3 separate regions of the Homo sapiens genome follow, and regions 2 and 3 are each linked to region 1. The links come from fine-mapping of genetic effects on gene expression. A gene starts in region 1. Each other region holds a variant in brackets. All regions are shown on one strand. Distances are between the middles of the regions. Region 1 holds the start of PTPRU (protein tyrosine phosphatase receptor type U). Region 2 has its middle 47 kb from the start of LINC01756. Region 3 overlaps PTPRU (protein tyrosine phosphatase receptor type U).

The links. PIP is the estimated chance that this variant, and not a neighbour inherited with it, causes the effect.
Region 2: its variant is fine-mapped to the expression of PTPRU in cerebellar hemisphere (GTEx, PIP 0.98).
Region 3: its variant is fine-mapped to the expression of PTPRU in tibial nerve (GTEx, PIP 0.96).

Annotation. Positions count from the first base shown.
Region 1 is chr1:29,232,490-29,242,801 of GRCh38, reverse strand. PTPRU (protein tyrosine phosphatase receptor type U) reads right to left here and starts at 6,280. Exons shown (of 30, transcript NM_133178.4): 1 at 6,085-6,280. The coding sequence starts at 6,157. RefSeq lists a silencer at 6,158-6,477.
Region 2 is chr1:29,391,583-29,401,894 of GRCh38, reverse strand. No RefSeq gene overlaps it. Among named protein-coding and RNA genes, the nearest start is that of LINC01756, 47 kb to the right of the region's middle. RefSeq lists a silencer at 7,232-7,432. The variant G/A (reference allele first, on the strand shown) is at 4,891.
Region 3 is chr1:29,300,608-29,310,919 of GRCh38, reverse strand. It overlaps PTPRU (protein tyrosine phosphatase receptor type U), which reads right to left. Exons shown (of 30, transcript NM_133178.4): 16 at 6,875-7,065; 17 at 6,071-6,146; 18 at 5,492-5,568; 19 at 140-176. Among named protein-coding and RNA genes, the nearest start is that of LINC01756, 44 kb to the left of the region's middle. RefSeq lists an enhancer at 1-226. The variant T/C (reference allele first, on the strand shown) is at 5,523.

The DNA.
Region 1 (10,312 bases):
GGATTGAACAAAACCTTTTGTCAAGAGCCACTGAGTCATGGTCCATCCAGACCAATTCCCCTCCCAGAGATGCCCAGGACTCACTGAAGGTGCTGCAGGCCGCCTCATGCCTCTAGACCAGTGCTGTCTGCAGAACTTTCTGAGAGGATGGAAATGTTCTCTGCCTGCATTAACCAGTACAATGAGAGCCACTAGCAACATATGACTCTTGAGGACTTGAAATCTGACTAGTGCAACTGAGGGATTGAATTTTTATTTTAATTAATTTAAATGTAATACCCATACATGACTCAGGAGCCACCGTATTGGAGAATGCAGGTAGAGGACAATTTCCATCACCACAGAAGGTTCTATTAGATAACACAGCTCTAGGCTGACCGTTGAAAAACAGAACTATCGGGGCCCCTTCCAAGGCTTCTGGCTTTGGAGTCTGAAGAGCGATCAGGAGGCAAGTCCCAGGGAAGGGGCTACCAGAGGTTGAGTTGGGTACAGCCACCAGGACATTCCCACCCAACACGTCCACACCCCTTGTGGACACATCCTGGATACATGGACACCACCATAGGTCACAAGGGCACCTCCACATCTAAACATACAAATAGACACATGAGGCCAGGCACAGTGGCTCACACCTGTAATCCCAACACTTTGGGAGGCCGAAGCAGGTGGATCACCTGAGGTCAGGAGTTCAAGACCAGCCTGGCCAACATGGTGAAACCCCATCTCTACTAAAAATACAAAAATTAGCCAGGCATGGTGGCGGGTGCCTGTAATCCCAGCTATTCGGGAGGCTGAGGCAGGAGAATCGCTTGAACCCAGGAGGCAAAGGTTGCAGTGAGCCGAGATCATGCCATTGCACTCCAGCCTGGGTGACAAAGCGAGACTCCATCTGAATAAAAAAGAAGAAAAGGCCGTGCGCTGTGGTTCACGCCTGTAATCTCAGCACTTTGGAAGGCCAAGGCAGGCAGATCACAATGTCAGGAGTTCAAGACCAGCCTGACCAACATGACGAAACCCAGTCTCTACTAAAAATACAAAAATTAGCCAGGCATGGTGGCGTGCGCCTGTAATCCCAGCTACTTAGGAGGCTGAGGCAGGAGAATCACTTGAACCCGGGAGGCGGAGGTTGCAATGAGCCAAGATCACGCCACTGCACTCCAGCCTGGGTGACAGAGTGAGACTCCATCTCAAAAAAAAGAAGAAGAAGAAGAAGAAGAAGAAAAAAAAAAAATAGACACATGGCACCCCACACCCAGACTCACTAACAACTGGATACTTCAATGACTGGGTCCCTGTTGTTTCATACACAGATACCCCCACCCTCAGATACCCGGACACTTGGGGACCCCTACAACCAGACACTCAGGCACCTGGCCAGCCCCATACCTGGACACAACACAGAGACACTCCCCACTTATAAATACCCACTAACCTGAGGACTCCCAGACACATGGATACACCCACCTCCAGCCCCAGGGATGCTGGGATAGCCTCTGTCTGCACACCCTGATCCTCCCACATGCTGGTACTGGGTTGTCCACACCTAGATAGCGAGACACCACCCATCCAAATAGCTCTGCACCCAACTCCAGGAATGTGATACTTGGATAGCCAGACACCCTTAGCACCAGGCTCCCCAGGGGTCAAAGCAGCTGGTTACCTCCCTACTCCAAACTCAGATCCTGCCACACCACACGATAACCAGATGGCTAGACACCCTAACAGGTCACATGTGTCCATGCCCCTAGTTACAATCCCTACACACCCCCCACTCTGACTGCCCAGATGCTAGAGTCACATCTGCACACACCTCAGCCAGCCTCCCCAACCCCATCTGCCAGGGCCACCACGGGATGCAGTTCTCCTCCCTTCCCTCCGGTGCACAAGCGGTGAGAACAGAGGCTGTGACCCCACCCGCCCACCCTAGGATCTAGGACTGAGGACTAAGGGAGGGTCTTCCAGGAAGCTTCCCTCCCTCTCCTAACACAGGGCCCTGCGGGCTCCCTCCCTCCTCCCCAGCCACTCACACAGACCGTTGAGACTCAACGTCTCACCAACTGCCAGGCCCCATCACAAAAGCCTGAGACTGGGGGCTGGAAGGGCCCTGCCAGCTGCTAGGGGTGGGGCCAGAGCCTGGGGGAGGGGCTGGCAGGCAGGAGGCCCGTTCCCTTCAGTCTCTTGCCAGGGACTCAACCTCCCCAACTCAAAGCTCCCAGATGACACTCTCAACATGGCCTTTTCACAACATAACACCATCCCCCACCCTCCAGGAATTTTCCAGATTCCTGGAGGGAAACCTGGTTCTTCAATCTCTACCTTCAGTGGAATCAGTGCACCCCCATCTGGCATCTCCACCTCTGAACCTGGCCCCCTTAAACTTTATTCTTTCAGGCCATATATATTTATTCAGACCCGGTGGGCCAGGCCTTGTACCTGGCACTAAGATTCAGAAGTAAACTAAAAACCCAGTCTCTGTCCTCAGCTCTCAGTCTGGTAAGGGAGACAGCACTAATAAACTGTAATTACAATAATTACAATGCTATGTAAAAATCCAATTGACCCCCACCCCCCGACTTCCTAGGCTAGGACAGGGCATCACCGAGGAAGGCTTCAGGGACTGGATGATGCTTACAGCTGAGAGCCCATCAAGTTGCAGGAGTTCACCAGCAAAAAGCTGGAGTTAGAAAGTTCTGCAGAGAAAGCACGGCTTGCCCAAAGGCCCAGAGAGGAGACAGCAGGCTGTGGGCATTTGGGTCTTTGGTAAGAAGGTCAGGCTGGCCAGATCATAGGATGCAAGGGGCAGTGACACAAAACAAGATGCAGCTGGACAGGCAGGCAGGAGCTAGAGCCAGCAACAGGGCCAAGGGATAAGGACTTCACCCTGAAGGCAATGGGGAGCCTTCAAAGGGTTTTAAACCCTTTGAGTTAAAATGTACTTTACAAAGATCCCTGGCACCATGAGGGAAAGAGGGAAGGAGGAGGCTGGAGTCTTCCTGCAGGTGAAAGATAGCTGAGGACGGACAGAAGGAGACAGATGAAAGAGTCTCTGAGAGGGCAGACAGGACGTTCCAGGATGCAGGAGGGCAACTAGGAAAAGGGGGGAGGGGGAGGAAGGAGGAGCACAAGGTACCCCCTGCAACTCTGGCCAACCCAGTCCTGCATGGAAAGGCCACCCCATATGCCCAGCTGAGCTGATGAAAATCATGGAAGGATGGTGGCCTGTCTCCATCAAGCACGATGCTTGCCCTAGGTTTTTTCTGACACCAGAGCTGGGCAGCAGGCTGTCCAGGAGCTCAGCGTCCCCACCTCGGCCACTGTCACTGCTTCCTGCTAAGTCCCCTCCCCTAGCCCCAGGGAAAAGGGAGGGATGCCCAGACAAGCCTTTATTGCCCAACCTGAAACCACTGGGCAGCCACTCCCTCATTCCTGCCGTCCACAACTCCTGCGACCAAAAGGACAAAATAGCAAGAACACAGCAGAATAAATAACTACCAGGTTTGCAAGGCTGAGAAGGCATCACACACCGCCCCTACCCGGAAGCTCCGGAGCCATTCAGGGAGCTGGGCTGACTCTGTCCAGACTGGGGACAAGGGGTATCACATCTATTCTACTTGGGCTTCTGAGTTCATCTCTAAGAATAACAAAGGGGGCCAGGAACTTTACAAGTGAGGTGATTTGCCAGACATCACATGAATAGCAAGTAGCAGAGGCAGAATTTGACACCTAATACCCCAGCTTTAAATCACAGCCTCTGTCTGGGGCTTTGCAACAACTCTCAAATCCATTTTTTGTTCCCTGGCACTCACAGACAGAGCCTTACTTTACAAGGTACTTGGTATCTACCAAAAGTGCCATACACCATTATCATGATGGCTATGAGGCAGAAGAGGAAACTGAGGCATCAAGAATGGGAGTAACCTGCTCTAGGCCTCACTCCCAAACTTCAGTTCCTGACAGTCCTCCTGCTGGCAGGGCTTGGGGCTTGTGAGTGTTCTTGAAATCAAAGCGATGGTGGTAGGAGCGGGGATGGGGCGCATACAGAACCCCGCGGGTTTGATTTCACGGTGGGAGAGGGAGGCAAAGTTGCCGCAGGACATGGGGGAGAAGTTGGGGAGGATGGGGTGGGAGGTCGCCTTGGGCGTCCTTTCGGGAACGGGGAGGTCAAAGCTAAAGCTGTGCCCTATGGCCCCGGAGCTGCAGGGCGAGGCCCAAGCGCTGGCCAGTGGCCGGCGCGAACGCTGGAGCCACAGGAGTTCCGGCCCGAGACACCGGAGCCAGCAGCAGGGCCGCGAACGCGATGCCGGGGAGGTCAGTTGTCTGCGGCTGGCGACCGTGAGGAAGCGGCTCCGCTCCAGCACGTGTCTCGGCTCGGATCCCGCCCCGGGCGTCTCCCGGCTACCCGGAGCCCGCGGAGCAGCCCCGCCGGTGGCGAGGGCGGGGGAGGTCACCCGGAGCAGGGCCCCGAAACTCCGCGGGAAGGGGCCGCGGTCTAGGATCCCAGGCCTCAGGGTGGGATGTGGAACACGCGCACGCACACACATCCGACACACCGTCCACACTCCGACGAGCACACGGACACACAAACACAGGCTCCGTATACATACATTCAGCTGCGCGCACACACACACGCGCACGCACACCAAAGACACCAGACTCCGAAACACACCCGGAGAACGCGACCACACAGCAGACAAGCGCGGAGCCACACGCTCACACTCACGCTCACACTCAAGCACACACCTGGCGGTCCCGGCCGGCCGGGAGGCCGCACAAAGTTGCAGGCTCCACCAAGGGAGTGTCCCGGGAGGCCCGGGCGTCCCCCGCGCGTCCTGCGCGCCAAGGGAGGGGGCGCCGTCCCCCGGCGGCGAGCCAGGCCCTGCCCGCGCCCGGACGTCGCAGCCCAGCCCGGGGACAGCCCCCGCCCGGCCGCCCGGGGCGCAGCCGCGGCCCGGCCACCGCAGGAGCGCCCGCCGGTCCGGCCCTCCCCTGCCCGCCCGCCGGCCCCTCGCTGGGGCCCGCTGGCCCGGGCGCCCCGCAGCCCCGGCGCCGCCTCGGATCAGCCGCCCGCCAGCGCCGCGCGGAACTTGCGAAACAACAAACAGTCCGACATGCCCGAGGCGGCGGCCGCGGGGCCCGGTCCTCCCCTGAGCCTCGGGCCCTGCCCGACCCGGGCAGCCCAGGGGGCGCCGCCGCGACAACTTGTTCCGGCCCAGCGCGCCACACACGCGCACACGCACACGCGCGCACACACGTCCTGCCACCGCCCCCTCGGGCGGCCCCGGGACCAGGGCACACTCGCAGCCGCGGCCCAGGCGCGCTCCACACTCGCAACATTCCTGGACGCGCAGCCAGCACACACGGACACATTCGCACACACTCACATCCGTTCCAGACTCGCTCCCACACACGCATTCCCGGCACACTTGGCATTCACTCGGACCCACGCGGCCCCCGGCAGCACACACCACATACCCTAGACACTCCCCACACGTACACAGCGCACGGACACACACGTTCCGGACCCGTTCCCACGCCTTCACACATGTACACGGATCTCAAAAGCACACACGCCACACACGCGTTCCCGGATCCACACTCAGGCGGGATCCAGAGAGCACCCTTGGCCACAGGCATAACACAAACACACAACCCACTCGCAGACACAAAACAAACAGCACTCCCGGCCAGGCATACAAAATGCAAACAAATGCAACACATTAGCAGATACAACTCCCGCAACACAACCAAACTCAGATGCACACACAACCCACTTGGCCACACAAACACTACACACTGGCAGACCCACAAGACACTCAGCGCACACCCAATGCCTCGATGCACACAACATTCACCCCCAACATACTCGCCGACACACATCACCTTTTCTTGCGCACAGAACTCACGGACACACAACATTCGCAGTCACGCAACACCCCGGGCACACAATCGCCCATCCTACGCTCAGACACACACAGGGAGCACGCTCGTAACGCCCGGTCACTCAACACTCACACTTTCTTCCGAGCTACGCCACGGGCCCCGAGGCTCGGCGGGGCAGGCTCGGTCCGGCCGCCGCGCGCTTACCTGCCGGAGTCTCGGTCTCCGGCGCGCAGAGCTGGAAGGTGAGTGCCAGCACGAGCGCCTGGGCACGGGCCATGGTTGGAGCGTCGCCGCCCGTCCCGGGGCCCGGCGCGGGGGACGCCGCCCCCGGAGCCCGAGCCCAGCCCGAGGCGAGCCGGAGCCCGAGCCGGAGCGGAGCGGCGCGGCGCGGAGCGGGACTGGCGCCGAGTCCAGAGCGCGAGCCGGAGCAAGCGGGGCGCTGACGTCAGGCCCGGCCGCGGGTTCGGCGGTCTCGCGGCGCTCCCTGCTGGCCACGGCGGGTGCTGCAGCGGGTCCGGCCGCCCGCTAGCCCTGGCGCGCCCCTCCCCCGCTCCCGCATCCTCCCCGCCATGAGGCCCCGCGGCTGGGTCTGGACGCCCACGGACGTCTCCACGGACCGGGCACCAACACTGCCAGGCGAGCACGCTCATGGCCCACGCCTAGCTCCCGTACAGCGCTCTCAGGGACGGTGACCCAGGGACACCCGGCCTCTGTCCCATCCGATGCCTGAATCCCTTGTACCTTGGCGCCTTCAAATGCGTGTTCTACATACCTCCAGGAACAGGGCGCTCATCACCTGGCCAAGAGCGGTTGTTGGGGCTTTGGAAACGCCGGCTTTTAGAAAGTTTTTCATTTCATGACGTGCAAGTCTACCTCCCTCACTAGCCCTCACTGGTCCTACTCTACCTTCTGGCTACACAGGTTAAATGTATTTGGGCCTCTACCCAGAACGAGCCCTCGCACTATGATCTGCAAACTCGTTGCTCATTACTATGTAAGACCAGGTACCTTCTATGTGTTTAACCCACATGGACTCATTTAATCATCATATATTAGGTATGCAATAATTATACTGCATAAATACTGTTATGCAACAGTATTTGACAGCACCGAGATTTGAATCAAAGTTGTTTGGTTTGAATTGAATAGGGGCTGAGACCTTCCTCCCATCTGGACACCTATTCATTCAACAAATATTTATTGGGGTCTATTCATTTATTCAACAATTACTATAGGCCAGGGTAGAGATATAAAACAGACAAAAATTCCCTACTCTCATGGACCTTACATTCCAGTGGGAAGACAAGAACAGTAAACAACCAAAAAAACAAAAACAAAAAAGCAAACCCTCTGGTGTACGTCCTTTATCACTGTCTCATACACCAGGAAATTTGGGGGTGGTGGGGGGACAGGGAAGGGAAGGGGAATTGTTGCAATTTCAAATAGAGTGCGGGCTATATGATGAGTTCATTATCTGTCTCCACCTCTAGAAATGAGCTCCCTTGGGAAAAGACTCATCTTGTATTTCCGTGCCCAGTATATGGCATGTTTTTATTATTTTATTTTATTTTATTTTATTTCAAGATGGAGTTTCACTCTTGTTGCCCAGGCTGGAGTGCAATGGCGCAGTCTTGGCTCATTGCAACCTCTGCCTCCCAGGCTCCAACAATTCTCCTGGCTCAGCCTCCCAAGTAACTGGGATTACAGGTGCCCACCACCACGCCCGGCTAATTTTCGTATTTTTAGTAGAGACAGGGTTTCACCATGTTGGCCAGGCTGGTCTGGAACTCCTGACCTCAGGTGATCCACCTGCCTCAGTCTCCCAATGTGCAGGGATTACAGGCGTGAGCCACCGCGCCCGGCCTCTGGCACGTAATTGATGCTCAATAAATACTGACTGGATGGAATGAATGAAAGGGAAATGGTCCTAGCCTTCATGAATCTTACATTCTATTAGGAGAGCCCAACAGCAAACATGTACATAAATATATCATTACCATCTAAGATATGCAAGCTAAAGGAAACGAGGGAGTATAATGATAAAGAACATAGGGAAGGGGCATCTCCTTTAGATAAGTGGTCCAAGAGGGCTTTGCTATAGAAGTGACATGGTGACATTTGAACTGAGACCTGAAGTATGAGAAGGAGCCAACCTCATGCAAATCAGTGGAGAGGAACATTGCAGTCAGAGGGGACAGCCTGTGCAAAGGCAGGAGCTGGTGGGTACAAGCAGCTGCAAGGAAGCCGGGCAGCTGGCATGGAGTGAGTCAGGGGCAGAAGGGAGCCAGGTGCAGCTAGACAAGTCAGCAGGGTCTGTAGGTCAGGCAAGAAACTATGAGCAAGGAAGGGGCTTGAGGTTCAACCCTAAGAGTAATTAATGGGAGGCCACTGAAGTGGAGTAATTAAGCAGAGGAGTAATAAGGAGTAATAAGTTCTGATCTCTGGGTTTTTTTTTTTTTGTTTTTTTTTTTTTACAGCTCCAGCTATAAAGACTGCTGAAGTAGGGAAAGCCATGGGCAGATGGGTCTGACCACTGGGCAGTGACACTGAACAAAGCGTAGGAGTTCAAGGTATATGTAGGCCCTCCCTGTGCCCTGCCCCTCCTAGCTGGCTTCATGCTGAGATGGACACACCTTGAAGCTGCCCTGGGGCTGGAGGAGGTATCGCTGGGTTGAGAGTTCCTGGGCTCTTGGTCTCCTCTCTTGTGAGAGCTGATGAGCTCCACACTGAGTTAGGAAAGGGACCAAAAGACACAGCAGGCAAGAATTAGACACAGATAATTAAATAGGGAGAGGGAGGCAGAAGCAAGAAGAAACCAAGGGGAAACCTTAGGGAAGAAACTAAGATACAGAGACGCTGGAGCAGAGAGGAGCCAGAGAGGCCCACCCAGAAAAGGAAACTCAAGGAGAGAAAACCAGTGAACAGAAGAAACAACCAAGGGTGCTGTTTGCAGAGGGCTCTTGAGAGAGCCTCAAAATAGGAGTTTTACCAGTGATCCCATTTTACGGGTGTGGAAACTGAGGTTCAGAGAGCATATGACACTTGCCTAAGGTGACACAGCTAGTAAATAGACGGCGGGCCCTAGATTTGAACCCAGATCTGACTGATTCCACATCCCTTTGCCCTTTGTGCAGGGGAAGATGGCAGAGACTATAATGGAGGGAGAAAGAGAACACAAGCAACAGGTAGACAGATGAGAAGAGGACTTTCTGCTTTACTTTTAAAAGACCACAAACTTCAGCCGGGCACAGTGGTTCACACCTGTAATCCCAGCATTTTGGGAGGCAGAGGCGAGGTCAGGAGTTTGAGACCAGCCTGACTAACATGGTGAAACCCTGTCTCTACTAAAAAAAAAAAAAATACAAAAATTAGCCAGACGTAGTTGCGGGCACCTGTAATCCCAGCTACTCAGGAGGCTGAGGCAGGAGAATTGCTTGAACCTGGGAGGCGGAGGTTGCAGTGAGCCAAGATCGCGCCATTGCACTCCAGCCTGGGCAACGAGCAAAACTCTGTCTCAAAAAAAAAAAAAAAAAAAAAAAAAGACCACAGACTTCTATAATCCTTGAGAGAAGAAGGAAGAAGGAAATTCCTGGCCTGGAGTGACCAGCCCAAATCTAGGGAAAAGGAGATGGCACCACAGACCGTTCTAGGCCATGAGGAAATTCAATTACCTGCAACTCATGGAATATTTATGACACCTACCCTGTGCCAGGCTCATATCGGGTGCTGGTGTTATGGAGATAAACCAAACATGGCTCCAGTCTTGCCTGGAGGGGAATAAATAAGAGACGATGTACTAAAGGCCATAACACAGCTCCAGGGAAAACACAAAGGCAGCAGCAGATGACCTAGGGAGTTTTGAAACATCAAAGAAATGACATCTGAACCTGGAGTTTCCGAGGCAGGGAACAGCATTTCAGGCAGAAGGAGTGGCCTGAATAAAGGCACAAGACACACTGGGGAAGACGGGTATCAGATGCAGCTGGATCACAGGCTATGCACGGTCCAACAGGAGAAGATGAAGCTGGAAATGCAGTGTGGGAGTCAGAGTGCAAAGAATCTTGAATGCAAGTCCAGGAAATTGGACTTGAACCCCTCAGTCAGTAGTTCTCAAACTATGCCCCTGCAAGAACCCAGATGGCCTAGACTAAAAGTGAGGGCTATTGGGATGCACAGGAGGCTAAAGTCCAGCCCCAAGGAGGAGGACTTGCTGGATGATTCTTCAGGCTTCCTGACTGGGCTCCCCAGAAATTCAGAGGAGCCAATTTGGTGAAGAAGAGAATGTCGACATCTCAATGTCACCTAGGGAGTCTTACAACAGAAGGTTACGTTGTACTTCCCAGTTCAAGTAAGCCTATGTGTCACTGGGGAAAAGGGTAAGCAGGACTGGTCATCGTGTGTGTGCTGGCACATAAATGTGGGGCCAAGCCTT
Region 2 (10,312 bases), 160 kb before region 1:
ATCAATGTGCAAAAATCACAAGCATTCTTATACACCAATAACAGACAAACAGAGAGCCAAAGCATGAGTGAACTCCCATTCACGATTGCTTCAAAGAGAACAAAATATCTAGGAATCCAACATGCAAGGGATGTGAAAGACCTCTTCAAGGAGAACTACAAACCACTGCTCAGTGAATTAAAAGAGAACACAAACAAATGGAAGAACATTCCATGCTCGTGGACAGGAAGAATCAATATCATGAAAATGACCATACTGCCCAAGGTAATTTATAGATTCAATGCCATCCCCATCAAGCTACCAATGACTTTCTTCACAGAATTGGAAAAAACTACTTTAAAGTTCATATGGAACCAAAAAAGAGCCCGCATTGCCAAGTCAATCCTAAGCGAAAAGAACATACCTGACTTCACGCTACCTGACTTCAAACTATACTACAAGGCTACAGTAACCAAAACAGCATGGTACTGGTACCAAAACAGAGATATAGACCAATGGAACAGAACAGAGCCCTCAGAAATAATACCACACATCTACAACTATCTGATCTTTGACAAACCTGACAAAAACAAGAAATGGGGAAAGGATTCCCTATTTAATAAACAGTGCTGGGAAAACTGGCTAGCCATATGTAGAAAGCTGAAAGTGGATCCCTTCCTTACACCTTATACAAAAATTAATTCAAGATGGATTAAAGACTTAAATGTTAGATCTAAAACCATAAAAACCCTAGAAGAAAGCCTAGGCAATACCATTCAGGACATAGGCATGGGCAAGGACTTCATGTCTAAAACACCAAAAGCAATGGCAACAAAAGCCAAAATTGACAAATGGGATCTAATTAAACTAAAGAGCTTCTGCACAGCTAAAGAAACTACCATCAGAGTGAACAGGCAACCTACAGAATGGGAGAAAATTTTTGCAATCTACTCATCTGACAAAGGGCTAATATCCAGAATCTACAAAGAACTCAAACAAATTTACAAGAAAAAAACAAACAACCCCATCAAAAATTGGGCAAAGGATATGAACAGACACTTCTCAAAAGAAGACATTTATGCAGCCAACAGACACATGAAAAAATGTTCATCATCACTGGCCATCAGAGAAATGCAAGTCAAAACCACAATGAGGTATCATCTCACACCAGTTAGAATGGCGATCATTAAAAAGTCAGGAAACAACAGGTGCTGGAGAGGATGTGGAGAAATAGGAACACTTTTACACTGTTGGTGGGACTGTAAACTAGTTCAACCATTGTGGAAGACAGTGTGGTGATTCCTCAGGGATCTAGAACTAGAAATATCATTTGACCCAGCCATCCCATTACTGGGTATATACCCAAAGGATTATAAATCATGCTGCTATAAAGACACATGCACATGTATGTTTACTGCAGCACTATCACAATAGCAAAGACTTGGAACCAACCCAAATGTCCAACAATGATAGACTGGATTAAGAAAATGTGGCACATATACACCATGGAATACTATGCAGCCATGAAAAAGGATGAGTTCATGTCTCTTGTAGGGACATAGATGAAGCTGGAAACCATCATTCTCAGCAAACTATCACAAGGACAAAAAATCAAACACTGCATGTTCTCACTCATAGGTGGGAATTGAACAATGAGAACACTTGGACACAGGAAGGGGAACATCACACACCAGGGCCTGTTGTGGGGTGGGGGGAGGGGGGAGGGATAGCATTAGGAGATATACCTGATGTTAAATGACAAGTTAGTGGGTGCAGCACACCAACATGGCACATATATACATATGTAACAAACCTGCACATTGTGCACATGTAGCCTAGAACTGAAAGTATAATAAATATATATATAAAAGAAGCAGCCAGGCCACATCTTGAATGTTTTATGGCTTGGAAATTTCTTCCACCAGATACCCTAAATAACCACTCTCAAGTTCAAAGTTCCACAGATCCCTAGAGCAGGGGCACAATACAGCCAAGCTCGTTGCTAAAGCATAGCAAAAGTGACCTTTACTCCAGTTCCCAGTAATTTCATCATCTCCATCTGAGACCTCTTAAGCCTGGACTTTGTTGTCCATATCACTATCAGCATTTTGGTCACAACAATTTAACAAGTCTCTAGGAAGTTCCACATTTTCCCTCATCTTTCTATCTTCTTCTGAGCCCTCTAAATTCTTAGAACCTCTGTCTGTTACCCAGTTCCAAAGCCGCTTCCACATTTTCAGGTATCCTTATAGCAATATCCCACTCCTGGTACCAATTCTCACAAAAAATTATATAAAGAAATACCTGAGACTTGGTAATTTATAAGGAAAAGTTAATTAACTTTTTAATTCAATTAAACTTCTTTTCTTTATAAATTACCCAGTTTGCAGGCTGTACAGGAAGTCTGGCAGCATCAGCTTCTGGGGAGGCTTCAGGAAACTTACAATCATGGTGGAAGGCAAAGGGGAAGCTGGTACATCTTGCATGGCTGGAGCAAAAGGAAGAGAGAGGAGGGAGGTGATACATACTTTTAAACAACCAGATCTCATGATAACTCACTCCCTCACTATCACAAGAACGGCACCTAAGGGATGGTGCTAGCCTATTCATGAAAACTTTGACCCCATGATCCAATCACCTCCCACCAGGCCCCACCTCCAACACAGGCGATTACAATTTGACATGAGATTTGGTGAGGACACAGATCCAAACCACATCAGACTGTATCTCCAAGCCAGGGGTTGACAAACTAATCTAACCCACGGTTTATTTTTGCATGGCTCATGAGCTAAGAATGGTTTTTTATCATTTTAAAGTTTAGTTAAAAATTATAAATACCATCGTTGCTAGTCTATATCCCAGCACCAGTCTTAGTACCAATTCTATGTCAGTTGGGATCTAGTCAGAAGGCAGGATCACACAGTAATTTTATCAGGAAAAGCCTGATATAAAGAATTATTGCCTAGAGCTGGGAGCAGTGGCTCAAGCTTGTAATCCCAGCTACTCGGGAAGCTGAGGTGGGAGAATTGCCTAGCCCAGGAGTTCAAAGCTGCAGTGAGCCATGATTGCACCACTACACTCCAGCCTTGGCAACAGAATGTGACGCCCCTCTAAAAAAAAAAGAGAGAGAAGAATGATTGCCTAATGATGGCATTAATTACTAAGGAGTAAAGAGAATGCTAGGCAGACATAGCCAATATGTGGAGTTGAGGCAGAGTACTCAAGGGATAAACAAATTTGAAAGAACTCCCACTCCCGTGCTATGATTCAGACCTCACTGGAGAGGGTGTGGCTGTAGCCACTGAATGGTAAGGAAGTTTCTGAGATTCCACAAGCTGAGGTTGGCAAGCAGGAAACCCACTGTGGTGCCAAACAGGCTTGCCAGCAATCTGCTCTCTGGGGTGCTACCGTACCTTGTGGGGAAATCCACCTCCTCTGCAAGATGGAAATAACAATAGTACCCACAGGGTGGTTGTGAGGGCTGTATGATTCTATGTATGTGAAAGACTAAGAACACGTGATGTTTTTCTAAGTGTATTAAAGTGTAGTTAAGCCGTTGATGAATGTTAGCTATGCTATCACTATTATTATTATTATTACTAGAATAATAATCATCATCATTATCACGAACATCACCATTATTACTGCCATCTCCATGGAAAGAAAAGAGAACTTTCGAGAAGTTGTCTGCCTAGTGCCACTCCCGGGACCCAGCACGCTGGAACCCAGGCCCCAGCCTATCTGGTGTCAGAGACCATGCTCTTTCCACTCATACCAAGCAAGAAGCCTCTACTTCGGTCTCTGTATTCAGTAAATAGGGAAGCTGAGGTTCTGAGACTATAAGGGACGCACCTGGAGCCACACAGTGGGAGAATTCGTTCCAGGCCACCCCCACAGCCTTCTCTGGAAGGAAGCTTGAAGGCAACAGTAATCCTGGTCACCTGTGCGAATGTGAACCCCCTTGACTAATGTCACCAGCAGCTCCTGTCCTTTACTTTCTATCTCCTTGTCCCCCACCTCGTCTCATGTTGATTTAACCTGCAGTTTTATGGTCAATCATCTCATAGTAAATCCATTTTAATCTCCCATCGGGTCACCCAAGCTGTCTTTTTATTAGGAAATAAATAATGCAGCACTTTATGCCACACTGAGGGTTAGCCCTGGGAGCCTGGCAGTGGGAGGAGAGGCTGCACAAGCCTGGAGGAGCCTCGAGACCCCAGAGACAGAGAGAGGTACAAGAATAATTACAAGACGACAGGCGTGTGGGCATGGTTTGTGCAAGACATGAAAGCTGTAATAAAATCGGCTTTGTCTCCAAAGCTCTAGGTGAGATTTTAAATGAAAGGTATCAGCTCGGGGATGCTGGCTGTGCTTAGAGATAAGAGCTCTTAACCTAAGACCCTGCCTGTTGCTTACCTGCCAAGCCACCTGAGCCAGCCTGGCCCTCTCTCAGCCTCAGCATCCCCATCTGACTGACAGGAGTCATTCACCTACCCTGATAATGAGGTCCAGGTCACAAGCTCCACCCAGAGAACCCTGGGTTGATGGCTTCTAAGTAGCCCCAGAGGTCAGCCCTGCCTCTCTCAGAGACCCCTAGGTTAAGGAGCCCTGGGGGTCAGCCCTGCCCCTCTCAGTTTCATCTCTCCTGACTCTCTAAGGAGAAAGGGCACTAGACAGGGAGTCAGGAAACCTGGGGCCTCAGCCTAGCCTGGACAATGATTTGCTGTATAACCTTGGGCAAGGATCTTCCACTCTTGGGGCCTCATCTGTAAAATGGGGGACATGCTGGACACTAATGTTCTTTTCAATGTTCCAGTTTCTGGGGCCTGCCCAGGTTGACTCACTCAGTGGAGGGAAGGTGTGGGGGCTGAAGGGAGCCTCTCTGGCCAGCTGCCCCGCTGCTGCCCGTCT[G/A]TGTCCCTCCACCTCATTTCCTTATCCCTGGGGGTCCCATCTGGCCCTGTCTTCATGCCTGCTCCCCAGTTGCCAATGGAAGCATTTCAGTGCATCTCAGTTGGATGCAGAGAACTGAGTCTCTGCCTCCAGATGGCGATGTCCTCTCCTGCTCCAAGCCCTAAACTTAGATGCATTAAACATGAAAATCAGAAGCTCTAGCTACTTCCCCAAGCTGTCATCCTGCAAACTGTGCCTGGAAACGTGGTGCCAAATAAGAACAATAACAACAACACTGCGACTCACTGAACGCTGACTATCGAGGCACCGGGCACTGCCTTCAGGATTCACACGAATTCATCCATTTACTGCTCACAACAAGCCTACCAGAAAGCAATGATTATCCCCATTTTACAGAGGCAGAAACTGAGGCACAAAGAAGGTCAGAGGACTAATAATAGCCAAGCATGGACAGGACTAGACACTCTGACTCTTGAATCCTGATCATGACCCATAAGACCGGCCTTATTAGCTCCAATTTCCTGGACTTTGTCCCAGAAGACCCCAGAGGCAAGCTCAAAGGGATGCTGGCTCCATAGGAGGGCAAGGACTGGCCCCCATCAGCCCCTTCCCTGAGGGCCCCAGAGCCTCCCAGGGATACTTTCCCTACAGAGAGTGAAGCACACTCAGCCCGGCCTCCAGGAGTCCCCAGTACTGCCCAGAAAGGAGAGGCGGGGGTTGGGCTCACCCCCGGGTGTGCAGGCAGAACTGCATTGGGTGGGGCTGGACCCAGGGCAGCCTGAAGACCCCATGACCCTGAGAAGAAAGTCACGGAGCCTGAATGCTCTTAGTGAAGGGAGCACCGGGGCTTTCTGGGTAAGAAAAAGTTCTGGAGTCTGGTCACCCTTCTGGAGGCTGGAGACAGCTCTGGCTGAGCCCAAGGAAGTCATATATCAACACCTCATCTTGCCCCTCAGAGAGTCACCCCAGTACTGGCCACCACCACATTCAGGAAGTGACCACTGGCAAGGACCAGCTTCCTTATTTGTGCCTGGCTGGTCCCCTAGGACCTTCCCAACATACTTCACAGATTATTATTGTCTTAAAGACCAAAAAAAAAAAAACCAGAGCTGATTTCAGAGCTGTCATGGGACAGTGGGGAAGAGGAAGGGCTAGAGGTCAGGGCAGAGGTCTGGGTGACTTAGTAATGGAATGAACTTGTGGCCTCCAGCAATTCACTTCCCACCTTGGCCTTGGTTTTCTTGGTTGTAAATGGGAGCAATGACCTGACCTTACCGGGCTCAGAGAATTCAATGTGATCACGTTGATGGAGCTTTGACTTTGACACTTAAAACTGTGCGATCACCTCTTTGCTTTTGATGGAACATCTTTTCGTGACCTGGGAGGGAGGGAGGCACCAGCCAGTGAGAAGGAACAAGAAAACACTTAAAGTAAAACATGCAGCATGCCTTAGCTTTGAAAATCCAAACCTTCCTCGCAGGTTCAGGTCCAGGCCAGGACGCTCCCGCTGAGTTCTGGCTCTGCCCCTGCTCCCCACACTCAGGGGCTCCTGCTCTGCTTCTGTGTCTGGGCCAGAGCAAAATAGACACCTGGAGCCCGGCCAGCCCCTGGGTTTCTGCCCAGAGAAGGGCCGGGCACCCAGGCAGTGGGAAGGTGCTAGGAGAGGGGCCAGAAGCCACTGGGGAAGAGTGTGTGTGGTGTGTGTGTGTGTGTGTGTGTGTGTGTGTGTGTGTTAGAGAGAGAGAGAGAGAAAGAAAGGGAGAGAGAGAATGGGTAGGTACAGAAAGAGAGCAACAGAGAAACACACACAAGAGATTGGCCTGGCCTGTCCACCCTTCCGCCTGTCCTTGTCCTCTCCCACTTCCATGTGGCCTTGGGTGACCTCAGAACCTTGGTTTCCTTGGCTGGGAAACAGCATGATGCCCATCTCACAGGGAAGGTGGGAGGCTAGAGATGAGGGGTGTCAAGGGTCTGCTTGGTGCCCAGCCTAAGAGGGCAATTTAGCCTTCCTGCCTCTGTCCACCTGCAAACTTCCCTGACCCTCATCCACCAGCAGAGCTGAGGCCTGTGGTGGGCTCCAAACCAGCCTGCCTCAATCCCCTCCTGGCCCCACTGCCTTTTCGCTGGGGCCCTGGGCTGTGGCTTGGCCCCTGTGACCCGGTGGCTCCTCTGTACCTGGGGTGACCACAGCCCTGTCCCACGCTCGGTGAGTCCCCGCACAGGGGTGCTCAATACAGGGTTCCCACGGGTCCCCATGCTCAGGGATGGGGGGTGGCACCAGCCATGAGGCTATGCCCAGAGGTTCCCAAGGGAGCATCCAGAGGAACCAGGTCCACCGGGCACCTGTGTCACCTCGTCCAGGAAACCAGGACTGCTGTCAGGTGTTTACTGCTTGGTAAACATTTTGATGTTTCATTCATGAAACCTGCCTTTTCTGAGGTCTCCTGCAGTACAGACTGGAGTGAAGAATTTAATGAGAGCTGGGCCTGTGGTCCCTGAACAGCTCCAAGCACATGGCTCCCAGGAGGCCGTGTCTGCACTCAGAGCAGGAGTCCCCATCCCCATCCCACAGGTCACAGAGCAGGAGGGATGTGCTGCACAGGGAGGTGAAGTGGAGTCATCTCAATATATACAAACACACACAGTCGATGGATGGGGATAACAGTTCAGGCTTTTCTTTTTGCTTTTTTTTTTTTTTTTTTTTTGAGATGGAGTCTGGCTCTGTCGTCCAGGCTGGAGTGCAGTGGTGCAATCTCAGCTCACTGCAACCTCTGTCTCCCAGGTTCAAGCGATTCTCCTGTCTCAGCCTCCTGAGTAGCTGGGACTACAGATGCACACCACCACGCCCAGACAATTTTTAGTAGAAATGGGGTTTCACCATATTGGCCAGGCTGGTCTCGAACTCCTGACCTCGATGATCCACCTTCCTCATCCTCCCAAAGTGCCGGGATTATAGGCGTGAGCAACAGCGCCCAGCCTCAGTTCAGGCTTTTCGAAGAACATAGTAGGTGCACAACAAAGATTAAGGAAGGAAGGGAGGAAGGGAGGAAGGGAGAAGGAGGGGAGGAGGGGAGGGAGGGAGGAAGGGAGGAAGGAAGTGGGGAGGGGGGAGGGAGAAGAAAAAAGGGACATTCCATCACAGATATGTCTTGGTTTCCAGAATGACCCTGTGGATTGTGGGGGTGGCTGCTGTTAGCTCTACTTCTAGATGTGGAAGCAAAGGCTCAGAGAGATTAAGTGACCTGCCCAAGGACACACAGCATCAACAGGTACTCCTGACTGCTGGGGAGCGCTGAGTCTGCCTCTCCTTTGACAGACAGTGGAGCTCACACTCAGGGAAGGGAAGTGATGAGCCCAAAGGCACGAGCCAGTGTGATGCCAGAGTTGCCAGGACCTGCACCCAGCACTTCTATGACCCAGGACAGGCTCAGCTCCTGCACCCAAGCTGCCTCTTTCCTCTAGGCTACTCTGTACCCCCTTCCTCCTTCTCCTCCCACCCCAAAGCCTGCAACAGCCTCTGTCCCAGCCCTACCCTGTCCACAGTCTTGGGAGACCAGATGTCTGGCACTTTCCAGGCAAATGGAGATATGAGGTGCCTCCAGCCCTTTATAGACCCCAATAAGATGTTCTCCTTCTATGTCCTGTCCCCATCAAAGGCCAGGGGAACAAGGACACTCAACAAATGTTCCACATCATCCCAGAAGTGGGCCACACAACCCCCTGATGCCAGGACTCCAGACTGACAAGTGCAGTACTGAAATACCTCTTAGGCCACTGACACCAGACCTCACTGCCAGGCCTCTGCTTACATACCTCCTGTGATGGAGAGCTTACTCCCTGCAAGTCACCCACCATATTGAGAGAGCCCTGTTAGAAAGCCTTTCCTTAGCCTTCAGCTGAAATCTGCCTCTGTGACATTTATTCTGTCCTAAATACAATTCCCGGGGCTACACAGGATCACTTTGTCCTTTCTCCCTTTGCCCTAAGGCAGCTCTTTAAGTATTTGAAAGAATGATGCTTGTCACTTACTCATTCATGAAACGTTTACTTGAAGGCAACATCGCAGTTTTTTTCATTCCTCCATCCATTCACCCACCCATCCATTCATTCATTCATTCATTCATTCATTCATTCATTCATTCATCTGACTGAGTGCCAGGCCCTGGGCTGCCTTCTGTGCATACAGCTGTCAACAAGCCACAGTCTCCACCTGCAAAATGCCCCCAGCAGGGTGGGGGAGACCACGAATAAACCCACAATCGCACAAAATATTTAAGTGCTATGATGGGGGGTGCAAATAGTTGGGGGAGCCCGGAGAAGGCCACAGGGGTAGGGAGGCATGAAGGGCAGAGGAAGCAAGGAATGTCTTAGGGTCTGAAGTTGGAGAGAGACTCCTCCACATCCTGGGAACTGAAAACGGGAGGGAGCAGCCTGAAGCTGGGCAGGGGGATGGGGTGGAAGGATGGGTGAAATCAGACTATGCAGGGCCCTGGAGGCCATCCTTCCCACATGACCCTGCAGCTCTGTACCCCACCTGGATCTCCTCTGCATCCTGGACAGCCCAGGAGGCCAGGGCCCTACATGACCTTGGTGTTCAGAGGTAGATGTGAGACCCAAGGGACCTCAGAGCCAGGAGCAAAGTAGAGAAAAGCCTGCAAGGGACTCGGGAGTCTAGGCCAGAGCTGGGGGGCCAGGCCAAGGCAGGAGGACAAAGGGACCTATGTTGAGCCCTGTAGGAGTTCCAGGTCCTGTGCCAGGTTCCCCCATGTGCAGCATCCAATCTGGTCCTCACTACAGTCCTACAGGACACAGCTCATTAATCCACCTGACAGGTGAGCTGAGGGATGCTCCCTCACATTTCATCTCCTGTCATTCCCACAGCAATCCTGTAGGGAGGAGGTCATTCGTTCTCTTCGGGGCTTGGAGACTTTTCCTAGCTCACACAGGACTCCAACCCAAGCTTAGCCTATGTTCAGGACTCCACTGGAGTGGTGGTCAGGGAGGCTGGACTGTAGTGACTGGATAGTCTAGTTCAAGGAAAGGCCCTTGCCTTGGGCTCAGGCTCTGGGGCTGCTCAGCTCTGCCCAGGGCTCGCTTCCTAAAGACCAGGATCACTGGGGCTAAGGGCTCAGGTCTGGGTCAAACAGACCCAGGTTTAAGTCCTGCCACAGTACTCACTGGCTGCTCCCCCACCAGGCCATGGACTCCAGGGATCAGAGGGACAGTAGCTGGGGGCCTAGAGGGGTGGATAGGAGGGTGGACTCTGCTGTCAGATGCAGAGTCCAAGTCTTGGTTCCGACACTGAGCAGCCATGCCCTAGGAATGCCACGTAAGCTCTTGAGCCTCAGTGTCCACATCTGTAAAATGGGGTGATAACAGCCCCTGTCATCAGCTGCTTGTGAGGGGTCAGTAACCATGGGGT
Region 3 (10,312 bases), 68 kb before region 1:
GGGAGCCAGAATATGGCGACGGTGGGGAGACATTCAGGAATCAAGCGGATCAGCAGGGGAGGCAGAAAGGCAAGCTGAGGGCATTCCAGCACGCTGGGAGGCACATGGGAAGGCGCATGTGGGCAGAAGTGCCAGGTACCTTGAGTGGCTATGAAGTGGTTTGACCTGTGGTAACCCTGGAACAGGAGGAGAGGGCACGGTTAGACCCCAGGGAGTAGCCCCTCACTCCCCCACACCTCCTCTACCCTCCCCTCCCAGCAGCAGAACCCCTACCCCACCAGGGAACTGCTCCCTCACATCCCTAGGACCTCCTAAGCAGGATGACTTTGCATCCCCCCAGGTCCCCAAGGAAGTGGAGAAGTACAGCTGGGACACCAGAGTCGTGGGCTTAATCCAACCTGGGCTGTGCAACCCCAGGGAGGACATGACTCCTTTATGTGCCTAGAGGGACCCCCCACCCATAAAGTGGAGAGAGGCATCTGCTTTCAGCCAGGCTGTTGTTCGGAGACAGAGTCCCCAATGGCCCTGCCCTGTTCCCAGGGTTCCAGAAGCTCTAATCAACCCAGATCCCACACGTGGGATAACCAGAGCTTGTCAGTTATCTTAGCCCCCACACTTGGGATAACCAGAATGGACAGTACCCCTCCCCCTTACTCCTCAGTCACTCAGAGCGTGGGGGGCCTAGATGAGGGCTTCAGGATGGAAGTATATGGGCACAGACATTACTCATGGCCCTTGGATAAAATGTTAAAATCTTTAAGATCAATAATAATGACCCTGTTATGGTCACGTACTGTGCTAAGCACTTTACCAGTACCACCTCCCACGAGAGAGAGGCCAAGAGCTACTTCATCCTCCATCCCCAGAGCCCCCAAGCTGAGGAGAGAAACCTGCCCTCCGACAAGCCACCCCAGGGCCACAGCCACCCATGAGGTCCTGCCACAAGGCCTCATCTTTCTGAGCAAAAGAATTCACCAGATACCAAGGGCATCAATGCGGGCAATGCGGAAAGGGGAATTAGTACTGCAGGGCTGGCGCTGAGAAAACTAGCCCAGCCCCCTACCTCAAGTTTACACCCTCAACACAGCTCCCAGCAACTCCTCCGGTCTCGTGAACTTCCCAGGCCTGAGGAGCCCAGGGGCCAGACTGCCAAGGTTCAAATCCCAGCTCTACCTCTCACTAGCTGTGTGCCTTTGAGCAAAAACTCCTTCATTTCTCTATGCCTCCATTTTCATGTCTATAAAATGGAATAATTACAGCATTTACCTCTGAGGGCTGTTGTGAGAAGCAAATAAAGTAGTATGTTAAATGTCTGCCACTGTGTCTAGCACAAAGTCAGTACTTATTCAGTAATAGCCATTATTATTACTACTACTATTTTAAAGCTGAAGCAGTATCCTTGAAGATACAAATGAATCAAGTGTATCAAATGGAAGTCAAGAATTGCTGGGGCAGAAGGCGATTGACTATGGGGTGAAGAATCTGAGTCTTGGAGTTGAATGGACCTGGGTCCCTGCCACAGCTATGCCGAGCAGTAGCTGTGTAACTCTGAGCGCTGAGAAGGTGCTTCTCAGTCTTTCTTGAGACATAAATCTCCCGGGGGATCTTGTTAAAAGGCAGATTCAGATTCAAAGGTCTGGGGTGGGGCCCGGGATTATGCATCACCAGCTCCCAGGTGGTGTCCATATTGCTGGCCTCAAAACATCCTGAGTAGCCAGGCTCTTGGCCTCTCTAAGCCTTTGTTCTCCTCTGCAATATGAGGATAATAGCAAGACAAACACTCAGAGATTCTGCTGGATACCTGCTCACTGTTCCCACGAAAATGACCAAAACATAGTCAAAGTGACTAATGACGAAAAGCCTCCCAGTGACTCTCAGCCCTCAGCACTGGAACTTCTCCACGTCTAGCCCAATTCCCTCCTGCTGTCGCTCCATGCCACTGTCTCCACTGCAGCCTCGACCTCCAGTGCTCAAGCAATCCTCCCACCTCAACCTCCCAAGTAGCTGGGACTACAGGCACAGGCCACTACATCCAACTAATTTTTGTTTGTTGGTTTGTTTGTAGAAATGGGGTCTCACTATGTTACCCAGGCTGGTCTAACTCCTGGGCTCAAGCAATCCTCCCGCCTCAGCCTCCCAAAGTACTGAGATTACAGGTGTGAGCCACTGCACCCAGCCAAGAAATATATTTTTTAAAAGAAAAAGGAGACAAAATGGAAAAAGCACCCACAAAATAGCAAATAATCACCAGTCATTAAATATTATGAAAACAGTATATATGTATTAAAAATCCCCAGCCTAGGCAACATAGTGAGACCCCATCTCTCTCTCTCTTTTTTTTTTTTTTTTTTTTGAGACAGGGACTGGCTCTGTTGGTCAGTCTGGAGTGCAATGGCACGATCTCGACTCACTGCAACTTCTGCCTCCCAGGCTTAAGCAACCCTCCCACTTCAGCCTCCCTAGTAGCTGGGACTACAGGCATGAGCCACCACGCCCAGCTAATTTTTGTATTTTTTGTAGAGGCAATCTCACTATGTTGCCCACGCTGATCTCGAACTCCTGGACTCAAGCAATCTGCCTGCCTTGGCCTCCCAAAGTGCTGAGAAGACCCCATCTCTTAAAAAAAAAAAAAAAAGGAAAAAATTAGCCGGGCATGGCAGCACACGCCTGTAGTCCCAGCTACTCAGGAGGCTGAGGTAGAAGGATTGCTTGTGCATAGGACTTCAAGGCTGCAGTGAGCCATGATCACACCCCTGCACTCCAGAGCAAGAACCTGTCTCAAAAAAAAAGAAAAAAGAAATCAAATTAGAGAATAGCTAGATGAATTAGGGTAGTTTTTTTAATTTTAAAAGGCTAAAAAATGGGCCAGGTGTGGTGGCTCATGCCTGTAATCCCAGCACTTTGGGAGGCCAAGGCAGGTGGATCACCTAAGGTCAGGAGTTTGAGACCAGCCTAACATGGTGAAACCCCATCTCTACTAAAAATACAAAAATTAGCTGGGCGTGGTGGTGCATGCCTGTAATTCCAGCTACTTGGGAGGCTGAGGCAGGAGAATCACTTGAACCCAGGAGGCAGAGGTTGCAGTGAGCCGAGATCGTGCCACTGCGCTCCAGCCTGGGCAACAAGAGCGAAACTCCACCTCAAAAAAAAAAAAAAAAAAAAAAAAAAAAGCATAATATTTAAAAACAGACTATCCAAACTGCTTCCACCAAAAAACATTCAAATTAAGGCTAAATTGAGGGTAAAATGGTCGGGGTTGAGTTTCAGGCAAACTGATCATGAAGGTATTTGAACACTAGGGAAAGTAGTTTTAGGAGGCTGACCTGGGGCTGTCCAAGATCTTGACCCTTAAGCAGCAGAAACAGGGCCCTCCAGGGCAGCTTCCCCTGCACCCTCCAAAGGGTCCTGTAGAAGGTGCAGCTAGGGAGGCTAGGGAGGACTCCTTGGGAATGGCGGAGCCAGGGAAGGAAGGTGACAGACTGTTGTGACCAGTGCAGAATGGGCAGGGGAAGCACCCCCAACACTGCTGCCCCTGCTCAAGGCAGTGGAGGATGGGAGGGAACTGCTTACAATAGGAACACTCTCGAATCTTCAGCCCTGGGCAGCCCCTGGCCAGGCTGCTGAAATGGACGGTTGGTGCTGGGCACATAAGTAGAAAGGAAGGACAGAGACAGAGAGACAGACAGCCAGAGACCGTGAGAGAGTCTGAGATACAGCCAGTCAGACAGACAGGAGGAAGAGGAGGAGGAGGAGAAGGGGAGAGAGATACTTACTTCTCGGTTTATCCGAATCTTAATGATTCCAGTGAGGAAACAGTACAAAGCAAAAGAGACAGATATTAGGCCAGGGGCAGATGGAGGTGGACGGAGCACAGGAGTGGCCAGAATGGGCGATGTGAGCAGGGCAGGCAGAGCGGAGACGGGCAGGCCGGGCTGGGCTGAGCCACAGAGTGGGGAGTGGCATGTCCCTGCCAGGGCCCAAGAGGAGCCAACTGGGACCTTGGCAAGACCAAGGAGAGGCCCGCTGTCACCAAAGCTGCCCAAGTCTTCCAGGCTGGGCCTGGCCCTGACTCCAACCAAGGGACAGGATGAGTGGGGGAGGCAGCAAGGGATTCTGGGAAACATGGCATGGCACATCTGGCCCCAGGAGGAGGAGAAGAAGAGGGAGAGGAGAGGCCACCTCCAGAGACCCTGACTACCTCGGCTCCCAGACCTGTGCCTTGCTCTGCCTGGCCCCCCAGGCCTTTGCTTAGGCAGCTCCTCACCCGGGACACTCTTCCCTCTCCTCTCCAGCCACCCAGAGGCAGCTCAAGCCCTGCTTCCTCCACAAAGCCCGCCACACCAGCCCTGGCTCTGCCACTAGCCTGCTGTGTAACACTCAAGCTGTGTGATCTCTCTCCTGGCCTGCACTTGCTCATCTAATCTGAAGTTATTTTGATTTGTAAACATGTCTATCTGTCTCACCCACTCAAATAGATATGTTCAAGGAAAGCAGAGGCCATGACTGTCTTGTTCACATCTGTATCCCTGGTGCCCAGCACAATGCATGGCACAAAGGAAGTGCTCAAAATATATTTCATACGTGATTAAATGATGCTCTCCCAAACTTGGTTTGCTGTAGGGATTAGGGGCCCTGTCCCGCCTCGCCCCTCTTCCACACCTAGGAAGTAGACTCATCACCTCTCTTTGACACCCAAGCCCAGGCCTCCTGGCTGCCTGCTCTGTCTCTGGCCCCTCCCTCCAATCCATCCAAGTCCTGCTGCTGCTGCAGCAGGGGGCAGGACAGCCTCACAGCAGCAAAGGCTTTAGAGACACAGACAGGCTGAGATTTGCGTCCTTTCTTTACCACTCACTAGCTGTGCAACCTGGGACAAGTCGCTCCACGTCTCTGAGCCCCGGTTTCCTCACCTGTAAAGTGAGGTCATGGTGCTAACTGCCTCAAAGGGTGGGTGGAGGGATTACAGAAAAGGAGATCTTGGGTGTAAAGTGCTTAGCACAGTGCTTGGCACTCAGTACGTGCTGGATAAATGTGCGTTATTATTCTTAAAGGACCACTCTGATCATGGTCAAAACACTTTAACAACTCCCTGGTGCCCCTAGGAAAAAGCCCCCACTCCTGAGCCTGCCATTTGAGGTCTTCACAATCCAGCCCCTGCCTACCTCTTCAGCCTCATGGTGCACGATGAGAATCCCATTCTCCATGCCTCCCGCCTTCCTCACCTCTTGGCCTAGCTGTCTGCCTCTTCCCTTTGCTTTGCTTCTCTAAAGCACCTCATCTCTCAGGCCAACTCCCACCTACAGAAAGCCTTCCAGAAGCTGCTGCTCACTGTCCTCCCTCCTCTGAGCTCCCTGGCACTGACTGCAGAGATAGGGGCACTCCGAACTCAGCCATTTGAACCCCCATTTATCCCGACAGGTTTCTGCCCTGCCTGGATAGTAAGCCTGGAGCGGGCAGGGCCAGGTCTGCAGAAATGACAGGGCAAGGCACTCACATCTATGTAGTTGGCATTAATGTAGTCGGCA[T/C]TGGGGTCTCCCAGCATCGGGTGCAGTTTCACTCGGTGCCGATCATCTGTAAACACAGAGCAGGTGGGCAGGGGCTGAACTGGGGAGCCCAGAGCTAGGCAGTCAGGGAGGGATTCCTGGAGGCTAGGGGATAGGGCACAGGCAGGGCAGCCAGGGAACCTAGAGTCTCAGGGCTTACCAGTAGTCTCTGGGCACCATGGGAGGCAGGACACACCAGGGGGTAGAGCCTGGGCTATGGAGTCAAGGAGGCCTAAGAGTGTATGCTGCTCAGGCAATTACTGGCTCTGAGACCTTAAGCAGGAATCTTAATCTCCCAAGCCTCAGTTTCCTTATTTGTAAAACAGGGATTATAGTATTTCCCGTTTCACAGGGAAATTGAAGGGAATAAATGAAACAAGCACAGGGCGTGACGTGTGGTAGGCCCTCAATAAAAGGTGGCCAATGCTACTATCATCTCTGAGGCTGCCCCAGCTCACCCTGGCTGTGTTCCCCCTCCTGATGCCCTCCCACCCACTGCCCTGGACCCCAGGCCCTTCCCCAGGACTCACAGGCAGGCATTGGCTCCTGCCGGCTGCCCTTGACCTTGTCTTTCTTCTTTGTGGCGTCCCAGCCTTCAAAGAAGCTCTACCAGAAAGAAAAGTGGTGGTCAGTGGGAGAGAGGGACCCTCACTGAGGGCCCCTTCCCCTCAGTGGGGATGATGTAGGCAGGATGGGGGTGGGATGATAAGGGCCAGATTCAAGCTGAACTTGGGCCTGAGATAAAGTCACTGTGTCACTGTGGGTCCTTTTATCAGCCAGGGACCAGGGTCAAAACCAAGGCATGTGGGGGGAAGGGAAATGAGAAAAGAGGAAAAGAGGGCCAGGGTTCAAAGACATTTTGGAATAAGGGTCAGGCTTAGAATAACGGTTAGAAAGAAGGTAAAGGTGAGGTCAGATTTAGATTAGGATAAGGGTGATGTCAGAGTCCAGACAGAGGTGGGATGAGATCCAGAGTTCAAATGGAGCTTAGGATGACAGTCAGGATCAATGTCAGGCTGGGATTAGGTCAAGGTCAGTGTCAGTGGGCAGATTCAGTTTAGGGACAGAATAAGGATCCCGATCACAGTCCACATAGAGATGGAGACGAGATTCAAGGTCAGATTTCAAATCAGGGTTAGCATGAGAGTGAAAAACCAAATCAGTCTAAAATTAGGATGAGGGTCAGAGTCGAGGTCAAAAAGGTTGAGTTGGAAACTGTCAGAGCAGGCGTCCAACCAGGACTAGGCTGAGGGTTGCCAGGGTCAGAGTCCACAGAGAGTAAGAGCCAGGTGAGGCCTCTGCAGGGATCCTGCTGGCCCGGGGCCGGCGTGCACCTCATACTCCTGCTTGAAGCCGTAACCCTCGGCCGTCTTCATCTGGTTGATGTGCTGCAGAAGGTCTGCGACACGCACCGCAGGGTGCAGCTGCCCCGTGTGGTATGGGGAGCCCTTCCGGCCACAGGGACGCCTCGGGGAGCCCCCCAGGAGGCTGCTGGCCTCAGTGACCCCACCGCTGCGCTGGTCTCCTGCAGTCAGAGAAAGACAAAAGGGTTCTTGACACACATGCCCCAGCCTCGGGGGTCCTGGAGAGACTGGGGTCTATGGGGGTGGGGAGGCACAGCCAATGCCAAGCATAGCTGGGTTGTTGGCTGGAGCCAAGCAGCCTAGCCAGGCCCACCCTGTGTGGTCCTGAACACATTCCCTCCCTCCAAATCTCGGTTCCACCTGTAGAATGAGCCGGTCAGATCAGGTGGCCTCCGAGGGCCCTTGCGGCCCTGCCTGGCTAGATTTCATTATCCCCTCACTCTATCCAGCGAGGCTTCACCATGCTACCTGCAGAAGGCAGCACTCCGCAGAGCCCATGACAGCTGCTTCTTCCTCCCCCTCTTCCAGAGAACAACCTGGAACACTGGCAACTCCCAGCAATTACCCCCATTCAAAGACAGGCAAATCAGAAATTAGCAGCTGCTGCCAACCCCTCTGCAGATTAACACCAGGCACCCGAATAGGCGCCTTTCTCCTGCGCAGGCAGTTCCACCGTCAGCCTGTGCGGGGCCGCAGCCAGTGGGGGAGTGGGTGGAGAGGTCCACAGCTCCTCACACACCCTGGGAAACCATCCTCCCCCGAGCCCCCAGGACCACCCCGTCCCCGGCTGTTCTGTTCAGCATTCCCAAGGACGTCCCACTCTGGTCTTGGAGATCAGGTCCTGGGACTGAGAAAATAGCCACACCCGCCTTGGGACACGCACGCCCACTCACTCATTTAATACTTATGCATCGCTTAACAACAGGGATGCATTCCGAAAAATGCATTGTTAGGTGATTTGGTCTTTGTGCGAACACCACAGAGTGTATTTACACAAACTCAGATAGTAGAGCCTACTCCATGGACCTGGGCTGCACGGCATAGCCTATTGCTCCTACGCTACAAACCTGTACTGAATACTGTAGGCAATTATAACACAATGGTAAGTATTTATGTATCTTAACATAGAAAATGCACACTAAAAATACGCTATAAAAATAATAAATGGGCCGGGTGTGGTGGCTCAAACCTGTAATCCCAGAAATTTGGGAGGCCGAGGTGGGTGAATCATGAGGTCAGGAGTTCAAGACCAACCTGGCCAACATGGTGAAACCCCGTCTCTACTAAAAATACAAAAAATTAGCTGGGTATGATGGCACGAGCCTGTAATCCCAGCTACTTGGGAGGCTGAGGCAGGAGAATCACTTGAACCTGGGAGGCAGAGGTTGCAGTGAGCCAAGATCGCGCCACTGCACTCCAGCCCAGGTGACAGTGCGAGACTCTGTCTCAAAAAAAAGAAAAAAAAATCATAATAAATGATACACCTGTATAAGGCATTTACCATGAATGAAGCTGCAGGACTGGAAGCTGTCCTGGGTGAGTCACTGAGTGACTGGTAAGTGAATATGAAGGCCTAGGACATTCCTGTACGCTACTGTGAGCTTTATAAACACTGTATGCTTAGGCTACAATACACTTATTTAAAAATAGTTTTCCTTCTTGAATAATAAATTAACCTTAGCTTACTGAAATGTTTTAATTTGAATTTTTTGACTTTTGTAATGACATGCACATAGTACAGCTATACAAAAATATTTTCTATCTTTATTCTATACTTTTTTCTATTTAAAATTTTTTTTCGTTTTTTAAATTTTTTTTGTTAAAAACTAAGACACACACACACACACACACACACACACACACATACACATTAGCCTAGGCCTGCACAGGGTCAGGATCATCAGTATCGCTGTCTTCCACCTCCACATCTTGTCCCACTGGGAGGTCTTTAGGGGCAATAACACACACGTAGCCGTCATCACCTATGAAAACGTTGCCTTCTAAGACTTGGAACCAACCCAAATGTCCATCAGTGATAGACTGGATTAAGAAAATGTGGCACATACACACTATGGAATACTATGCAGCCATAAAAAAGGATGAGTCCATGTCCTTTGTAGGGACATGGATGAAGCTGGAAACTATCATTCTGAGCAAACTGTTGCAAGGACAGAAAACCAAACATCACATGTTCTCACTCATAGGTGGGAATTGAACAATGAGAACACTTGGACACAGGGCGGGGAACATCACACACCGGGGCCTGTCATGGGATGAGGGGAGGGGGGAAGGATAGCATTAGGAGATATACCTAATGTAAATGACAAGTTAATGGGTGTAGCACACCAACATGGCACATGTATACATATGTAACAAACCTGCACATTGTGCACATGTACCCTAGAACTTAAAGTACAATAAAAAAAGAAAGAAAGAAAATGGTGCCTTCTTCTGGGACACTTCCTGAAGGACCTGCCAGAGGCTGTTTTACAGTTAACTTTTTAAAAAATAAGTACACTCTAAAATAATGATTAATAGTATATTAAATACATAAACCAGTAACACAGTCATCATTAACTATTATGTACTGCACATAATTGTATGTGCTAGACTTTTTTACAACTGACAATGCAGTAGGTTTATTCCAGCTTCACCACAAACAAGTGAATAATGCATTGCACGATGACATTATGATGGCTACAATGTCACTAGGTCATAGGAGTTTTTCAACTCCATTATAATCTTATAGGACCACCATGGTATACGTGGTCCATTGTTGACCAAAACTTCATTATGCAGTGCATGATTGTACGCATGTCCCTCCTCCTGCTCTGGGTGAGGCTGTGAGGGGCTTATTCAACTCCAGCCCTCCCCACATTTTCAAGCCAATCTCTGCCCAGATCTAAGCTGGCAGGGTCCAGTGGGGGACTGTCAGTGGGGCCTAGATAACCTGCCCCCACTCCCTGTGCCTTCACATATGCTGTCCTTCTCCCTCCAAAACTCCTCCTCCCCCTACTTTTCTTGCCTGATGAACTCATACTCATCCTTCAACTCTCAACTGAAATGACCCTCCCGGCAAGAACCCTCTCCGGTGCCTGGCCTAGAATTCCTACTCAGCAACTAACTGGTAGAATGAATGCAGGATCACCAGGAGACCCCCTGATGAGCTCAACTTCCTCAAACTCCAACCAGGGCAGGGAGGCTGCCCCATTGTGCTTGGGTTCCACCTTCCTGTGCCATGGTTTGAAGATGACTTCACCTCATTTGCTTCTCTGCTCTCAGGAACCACGGTCTTCAGCTGCCTATAGTTCAATGTCTGAAAGCAATTGATTCCTATATTTTAGCTGGATTACTGGTTGCTTACAGCTGGATGGCAAATCAAGTACCAGTTATGCCATTGTGGTGGGA